2 linked regions of the Homo sapiens genome follow. The protein of the gene in region 1 purifies or fractionates together with the protein of each later gene. This does not show direct contact. Each region holds a gene or a part of one and is shown in the gene's direction. Other genes may lie near its edges.

Evidence for each region.
Region 2: the proteins of AKR1D1 (region 1) and CKMT2 purify together in Homo sapiens (affinity purification with mass spectrometry; one large-scale study listed by BioGRID and IntAct). This does not show direct contact.

The regions. Positions count from the first base shown.
Region 1 is NC_000007.14:138,082,854-138,086,665, forward strand, and holds part of AKR1D1 (aldo-keto reductase family 1 member D1), read left to right. Parts: intron 1-3,812.
Region 2 is NC_000005.10:81,231,939-81,236,414, forward strand, and holds the start of CKMT2 (creatine kinase S-type, mitochondrial precursor), read left to right. Parts: upstream 1-1,383; 5' UTR 1,384-1,439; exon of another isoform or gene 1,440-1,443; intron 1,444-4,476. UniProt on the Homo sapiens protein: Reversibly catalyzes the transfer of phosphate between ATP and various phosphogens (e.g. creatine phosphate).

The DNA.
Region 1 (3,812 bases):
CTGAATAATATTACATTGTCTATGTACCACATTTTCTTTACCTGCTCATCTGTCAGTGAACATTTAGGTTGTTTCCATATCTTAGCTATTGTGAATAATGCTACAGTGAACATGGAAGTGCAAATATTTCCTCAAGATAGTGATTTTATTTCCTTTGGATATATACCCTGAAGTAGGATTGCTGGATCATATGGTAGTTCTATTTTTAATTGTTTTTCTTGACCAACATGTTCTAATATATCTTTAATTTTTTTAGGAACCTCCATACTGTTTTCCACAGTAGCTGCACCATTTTACATTTTCACCAACAGTGTACAAGAGTTCTAATTTCTCTACATCCTCACCAATAATTGTTACCTTTCAGTTTTTTGATAATAGTCATCCTAATGGGTGTGAGGTGTTATTTCATTGTAGTTTTGATTTGCATTTCCCAGATGAATAGTGATATTGATATTTATATACCTATTGGCCATTTGTATGTCTTCTTTGGAGAAATGTCTACTCAAGTCCTTTGTCAACTTTTTAATCAGGTTAGGTTTTTCTTTGGGGTTTTTTGTTTTGTTTTGTTTTGTTTGTTTTTGCTTCTTTGCTATTGAGTTGTAGAAGTTCCTTTTAATTATATCTTGGATATTAACCCCTTGTGAGATATACGGTTTGCAAATATTTTCTTCTATTCCATAAGTTGCCTTTTAACTCTGTTGAGTGTTTCCTTTTCTGTGCAGAGGCTTTTTAGCTTGATGTAGTACCAACAACCTATTTTTGCTTTTGTTTCTTATGCTTTTGGTGTCATATCCAAGAAATCATCACCTATCCCAATGTCATGATGCTTTTTCCCTTATGTTTCCTTCTAGGAGCTTTACAGTTTCTGGTCTTAAAAATCTTTAATCCATTTTGAGTTGACTTTTTGTGTATGGTGTAAGATACAGGTCCAATTTCACTCTGATGACAGTTCCAATATTAGGATCTATGGTTCTGTTTAGGCTCTCAGTTGTTTCTACCAGTCTTCCTTTATGGAACTTTGTTTTCTGGGGTACCTGAATTCTTCAGCTGTGTGCAGGTTAATACTACTTTTAAAAAAGTATTTGTGAGCGAGCATCAAGGGTGAAAAACAAGTATTTTCTTTCAGACAACATTTGTGTGTGTTTGCTCCAGGTTCCCTGGAGGCATTGCTACCCAGTGACGATGTGAAACTGGTCAGCAGACTCCGGCTACATAGGTTATGAATTCTCCCAGGGACTGGAGGTGGCCATAGCCTGTTAGGGAGTTTTTTTACTTTCCTTTTTCATCTCCTACACCTCTCATTTCTGCATTCAGACTTTCCCATAAAATGTAGTTTGAATTAATAAATGCCTACTGTCTTTTCAGTACTTTTATGGTAATCTTTTCAAAAGTTTTAATCTAGCTTTTTTTTTTTTTTTTCTTTTTTTGAGACAGGGTCTTGCTCCAACACCCAGGCTGAAGCGCAGTGGCATGATTACGGCTCCCTGCAAATTCTGCCTCCCAGGCTCAAGCGAGTCACCAGACCCGGCTAATTTCTGTATTTTTTATAGAGATGGGGTTTTGCCATGTTGCCCAGGCTGTTCTCAAACTCCTGGGCTCAAGCGATCCTCCTACCTCAGCCTCCCAAAGCGCTGGGATTACAGGTGTGTGCCACTGCGCCAGCATAATCCAGCATTTTTAATTTTCTTAAGTAGAAGGAGATGCTGTCAGCCATTTTAGGAAACCAGATTTTTTGTTTTACTGTTCAGTGAGATTGTCTTTAATTGTGGAATCAAATTTTTATATTTTAGATTCTCCTATCATATCATTTATGTGGTATCCTATTTGATCTTTCCGATTTTTTTCAAAACTGGTTTTCCTAAAAAATGTGTCACAATTTATGTAGAATTTTTTTGTGCCACATTTAAGAATTACAAAGTGTGGGCCGGGTGCAGTGGCTCACGCCTGTAATCCCAACACTTTGGGAGGCTGAGGCGGGCAGATCACAAGGTCAAGAGATCGAGACCATCCTGGCCAACATGGTGAAACCCCGTCTCTACTGAAAATACAAAAATTAGCTGGGCTTGGTGGCACACACCTGCAGTCCCAGCTGCTCGGAAGGCTGAGGTAGGAGAATCGCTTGAACCCGGGAGGCAGAGGTAGCAGTGAGCTGAGATCATGCCACTGCACTCCAGCCTGGTGACAGAGTGAGACTCCGTCTCAAAAAAAAAAAAAAAAAAAAAAGAATTACAAAGTGTGGTCCTCATGTCCACAGTCCCAACTAGTTCCTCCATACTGATGAGAATTAAGTACAAAATAGTAATACATCTCACTGCTGCTTCTGCCTTCTGAGGGACAATATTTTTCAGCAAGTATATAAATATAAACATATAAATAAATAAGTAAATAGTAGATATCCAGTAAGTAAATATCCAGCTTTTAGAAGAGACTCCCTGGTGATAGCTGAATAATTGAAGATTTTCACTACTATAACTTGCTTCTGTGCCATAATCCTTATTAAATGAGTCATCATCCAAATATACAGCACCATGGTGGACTACACTCCTACCTTAGCCCTTGCCTTTGCCACTTTCTTTCTTTTTCTTTTCTTTCCTTTTTTTTTTTTTTTTGAGACAGAGTCTTGCTCTGTCACTCAGGCTGGAGTGCAGTGGCATGATCTCAGCTCACTGCAACCTCTGCCTCCCAGGTTCAAGAGATTCCCCTGCCTCAGCCTCCCAAGTAGCTGGGATTACAGGTGTCTACCACCACGCCTGGCTACATTTTGTATTTTTTAGTAGAAATGGGGTTTCACCATGTTGGCCAGGCTGGTCTTGAACTCCTGACCTCAGGTGATCTGCCCCGCCTGGGCCTCCGAAAGTGCTGGGATTACAGGTGTGAGCCACCATCCCCAGCTGTACTTTCTTTATCCTAAATGCTCTCCTCTGTACTTCATTTTTTGGGTTAATCTTCAAAAATACAAGCACCTACTTTAATACGCATTTGTCTGGGGCTCCCTTCATTGTGTACTTTAGCTCTTCATTTAAATGATCAGTTCCAGCCCATAAAATCTCAGTGATGTTTCTGAGATTCTATTTACCATCTAGTATTAAGCTTCATATATTAATAATATGTAGAGGGAGGCCAAGGCAGGAGGATCACTTGAGCCCAAGAGTTTGAGACCAGCATGGGCAACATGGCAAAACCCCATCTCTACAAAAATGTATGCCAGGCATGGTGGCACACGCCTGTAGTCCCACTTACTCGGGAGGCTGAGGTGGAAGAATCACTTGAATCTGGGAAGCCGAGGCTGCAGTGAGCCATAATCGTGCCATTGCACTCCAGCCTGGGTGACGGAGACCCTGTCTCTAATAATAATAATGATAATAATGTAGATACTTGAGAATGAAAGTAGATGTTTATTTTCTTCCCTGTAAATTTCTGGACACCACGCCTCACCTCCCCTTCCCACTGTACTTTGGTTGTCACACTTGTCATTCATAACATCTCATTTTACAGGCTTTTTTCTGGCCTTTTGACTCAATTACTGTCCAAGTCCTATTAATCATGTTGTTATTTAATTAACCAAACAAATATTTCTAATGTTGCTGAAATGTGTGTCTCCTTTTCCCAGCTATTTGATATTTGTGACTATGAATCTTATAATATCATCTATGTAGCCAGTTTGTTCATTTTTCGTATCCTCTTATCTTCTCTATAGTGATGACTTCCAACTGTAGCAGGGGGAAAAAATACAATATATGTCCCCAAGGCTTTCTATATCCTGCCCAGGACTATAAAATCACTAGAAATACATTTCAGATTTATTCTCTCGC
Region 2 (4,476 bases), on another chromosome or scaffold:
ACCCAATTTTTCTTCTGACCTTACTAACATAAACATTTACTCTATAAAATATAAGGTGTTGAGGTCGGGTGAGTGGAGGGGGCCCTAAATGTTGATTAGGCAATTGGGGAGGAAAAGGAGGTTTTTGCTATAACTGCCATTCTTTAAATCTACAATTCCATGCTCTTTAAAAGCCTTATAATTTTCTGGATCTGGGAGCTGGGCTATTTCAGGGTCAATGGATTTATTTCAGTTGGTGCCTGAACTGACTTGAAACAAGTGTGTGTGGAAAAGAGCTATTTTGAGAAGGAATAAACCGAGACTGCCCTGATGATAGAATATGCAAGCTGGTGGGTCTTGACTCCTTAAAGGATTATGAAATTAATTTGATTGGTCCCAATCTTTATATAACCACCCCAATCAGGAAACTTCCCATCCCGCCAAAAGGCCCCCTCACGTGCTCTCCCTGTCAGTACCCCATGCAAAGGTAAAATAGATGATATTTTTAAACATGGGTCGTGTTTAAAAGAAATGGAAACTCCTTCAGAGAATGAAGGAGAACCACACTGGGTAGAAGGTTATTCCTGGGGCTCCACCCCTTGCTCCATCAAGTCCTCTGAGCATGAGCTGGGCTCTGAGAAGGAAGAGACAGGAACCAATTGGTCATGTCCACGTGGCCTCAGAAGCTGAGTACGTGACGGTCACCAGATGCCTAGGCAGGCTCCCTTGAAATGGCAGGGCTGCTGTCCAAAATCCTGCTGGGTCATTGCTATTTACAGGCAGCCTTCCCGGCGTGCGGTGGATATCCCAAGCGGGGCTATTTTTAAGCAGGGCTATGGCCTGCCGTGGGTTAAGCTGGTGTGGACAGAAAGCGAGATGATCTAGCCATCTACTGCAGGGGGCCTGATCTTGAACAGAAACCTGACTGTAATTGTCCCTGGATCCAGGTCCCAGACAAAGACGCTGGAAGGAGGTCCCTCCAGCCCCTGGCTCAGGGCCCGGTCAGCTGCTGGAGCCAGGCAGCTTGAGACATCCTCCTCTCCGACCTTGGCTTGAGGGGTTCATCCTCCAGAGCTCACCAGGGCCCCAAGGCTGGTACACCTGAGAGAAGAGAGAAACAAATCCCCCAACAGATGTGCAATTTCACCTGCTGGCCCTTCCATTCTGAGATCCAGAGCCCTGGCAAAGGAGCCTCCAGGACCAGGCCTGGGAAGCAAGACTGGCTCCGCCTTTTACGTTTCAGAGAAAGGGCAGGTGCTATAAAGGGCCCAGCGCCCACGGGCCTGCCTTCAAGGGTACAGCTGTGGGGGCCGGTGCGCCCGGAGGTCTACGCTGGGATTGGTGAGGTCCTCTGGCCCCGCCCCGCCAGGGAGGATTTCCAGGCCGGCCCGACCAGCTCGCCCTGCATACACTTCTTGGCTGTGTGCGCTCAGCAGGACGTGGGAGGCTCCGGCTTCAAGGTCGGTGAGTCCGTGAAACTCTGCTTTATTCCTCCAAAGAGGGGTCATGGCTAGAGCCAGTGTGAAGGGCCTTGGAGGAGTGGATGCCGGGCTGTAGACGGGGACCCCGTTAGGACGCTGACTGCGAGGAGGCAATGGTGACTCGCTAAAGCCAGCAGAGCTCCCGCCCTTGGCCGAAGCGACCCCTCCTCCCTGCACACAGGTGGGGGCAGCTCAGCACCAGGAGCAGAACAAATCAGCACGCTGCCTGCAGGGCCTCTTTTTGGTAGTGAATCAGGAATTTTTCTCGATGGAAAAAAAAATCTAAAGGCTGTATTTTGACGCTAAGTTTGGGACAACTTTAAACTTAAAGTGTCTTTCCCTTGTAATTCACAGAGTCTAATCCACTCATTTCTGGGAATGTTTTTCCCCAGCAGTCTCAGTCTCAAAAGACATGTAAATCAGTGACTTGGGATGAACTAACTAGAAAATTAAAATTTTGAGAAGCTATTTGCTCATAAGCCCAATAGCCAGGCCCAGTTTAAACGGGCAAATAGTATTGCTAGAGATTCAGTTTTGCCGTCACTAATACTAACACATTGATAATGAGACAAGTAACCGTCTCCCCTCCCCACCATCCTTACCTTTCCCACCGGAGGTTAATTAAAAAAAAAAAAAAAAAAAAAAAAACCTATGGAATTGGCCCCACGTGTTTCACCTGGGCAGAGGCCTGTTCTTCACTAGCTTGCTTGCTTGGTTGGTTGTCCCGGGGTTAAAATCAGTCCTGTTCTTGCCCCTAGAGTGGTCTGCCTTCAAATGCTCTCCTCCGAATGTGAGGAAGAGTGACATTTGACAAACAGACCAAAACCTTTAGGTCTCCTCAGTGCTGCCCTTTAGACCTTCCAGAAAGTGTTGCCAGGCTCGTGACCCCTCACAGTGTCAGCTGAGTCAAGTGAGGGGCAGTTAGTGGCCCTCAGGACAAGGTTACGCTAGGTACACCAGTGTGCTGTTTCCAGAAGGGCTGCTTTTCCTGTCTACGGCTCTCACATTTTCTCTGTTCTGAACTCGTGTCCTTGGTCTGTTCTCTCTGTCCTCTCATAGAGGCGAGCATGGCCACAGCATGTGGCCAGAGACTTCCTGACAGGCAGGCTCTTCCGGGAGGCTCTTGGCCTTGTTTGGCGGTCTGAGCACTTCACTTCCTCTGCATTGATAGGCACCTTTTCCAAAGACCCCAGACTTTGGAGTTAATCACGCCTGTGGGTTAAGGCACTGTCACAGCAAAGCACAGGAGTGCCACATGCACCCCATGGACTCTGCCAGCCTCATGACCAAATCATATCATTAGGAAATGGGCCATAGGCAGGTCAGTTTTCCTAAGGAAACTGTGGGTTGGGTCGGGGGGAGTACCATACAGAATGGGGAGTCCTGGGGTTTCAGACACAGGAGGGAGACTGACTTTGCCCCTAGCTCAGAGGCCCTGGGCCTCCATCTCTGCCATAGCCTACAGCAGGCTCCATTTGTCTTCCCAAAGGAAGCCACGTAGAGTCTGTGTCAAGCATTCTGGGAGCTCCTGCCCACAGAGCCAGGAATCCAGCAGCAACCCATGCTGAAGGTGACTGCTGGAGGTCACACTAACCCTTGCCAGGAAGCCTCAGAGACTCCCTCCCTTGGGCGGGGAAGAAGGCAGCCCACTTCACAGCACTTCAAAGGACTAGATGGCTCCTAGCTTCCTGTTTTCTTGAAAACAATTTACCCTTGAGGGACAAAGTCTGGTAACGGTCCCATGCCTTCATCACAGGAGGCCTAGGAAAGGCCTCTGTTTTACAGAGTAGGATTCTAAATATCTCCTTCCTGCCTAGGACTGTCTATTTGCTGAGTAGAACAGTAATGCCAAGAGTGCCCATTAAGGTTGGCTGCGTACTAAGTGGTTTTGAGGTAACGCACACCCTTTGCTATCTTAGAACTGGGAGGAGACAGGCATTTTCTGCGGCCTAGGAGCCTGGCATCGTGAGAATTTGTTCAGAGTGTTCTGTGGAGCTGGTCCAAGCCCAAGGACATCCTCTGTTTTGGGGTGGCTCTCTGGATGGAAAGCTGACACGTGGTCCTCCTCCTGCCCTTCCACCTGCCCTCTGGCTGAGGAGTTCAGACACATGGACGCTGTGAATGGCTGGACCAGAAATAAATCTGAGTCAGCAGAAAGGCAGACATGGTCCATCCGGGATGCCCAGGAAGAGCAGGGGGCTCGGGCTGGAGGCAGTGACAGAACCCAAGGCCTCCTCTTCACATTCTAGGATGTCACAGAACCAGAGAAGAGCATTAAGACCAGGATCTGAACTCCCAGTATACCTGCCTGGGACCAAGAAATGTACAGCTTGTGGCCACTTAACAAAAGGGCTTGATGTAGCTGTCGTTGTTTTTTTAATGCGGAGGGCAGTGTAGGAACAAACAGGATATTATTGCTTTTGGCTCTGTCTGGCTGTGCTCTTGCACCTCCCCATCGCTCCAAATCTCCCTGGCTTGGAGCCCAGGTATTCTGCCAATTTTAGCCTAGATGCTGTAAGCAGTGTTTTTCAATTCAGGAGTCATTGTGGTGTTCCAGGTTAGGGAAACTGAGGCAGAAAGCTTCTATGGGGTGAGAGCTGGAGACCACCTTCCTCTTCACACTGGCACAGCATCCCTAGCAAGGCCTGGCAGGCACATTGAGCACTAGAGTCAGAGTGGAGCGGGCAGAGATATCCCTGGCGTCTGGGTTACTTCAGCGGGAGCCTGAGGACAGGGAAAGAGAACAAGTTTATAATCTGCAACTTTAGAAGTCATATGCCCTGAGGTGACAATCCTGTGCCTAGGAGCTGCTGTGTTAAATGCACTTCTACGGTCTTGGGGGTTTGACTGAGTGGAATGATCTGTGGCACCACAGGTTTTAAGCCACAGGGGTGGTTTCCCTCCAATTGCTGGTCAGTGAAGGGCTGTATGTGAGGTGCTGCGGTCTGCAAGGAAGCTGAATCCAGTGCAAAAGACAAACCTGGGTTCAAATCCCAGCTCTACTAGTGTGCTGGCA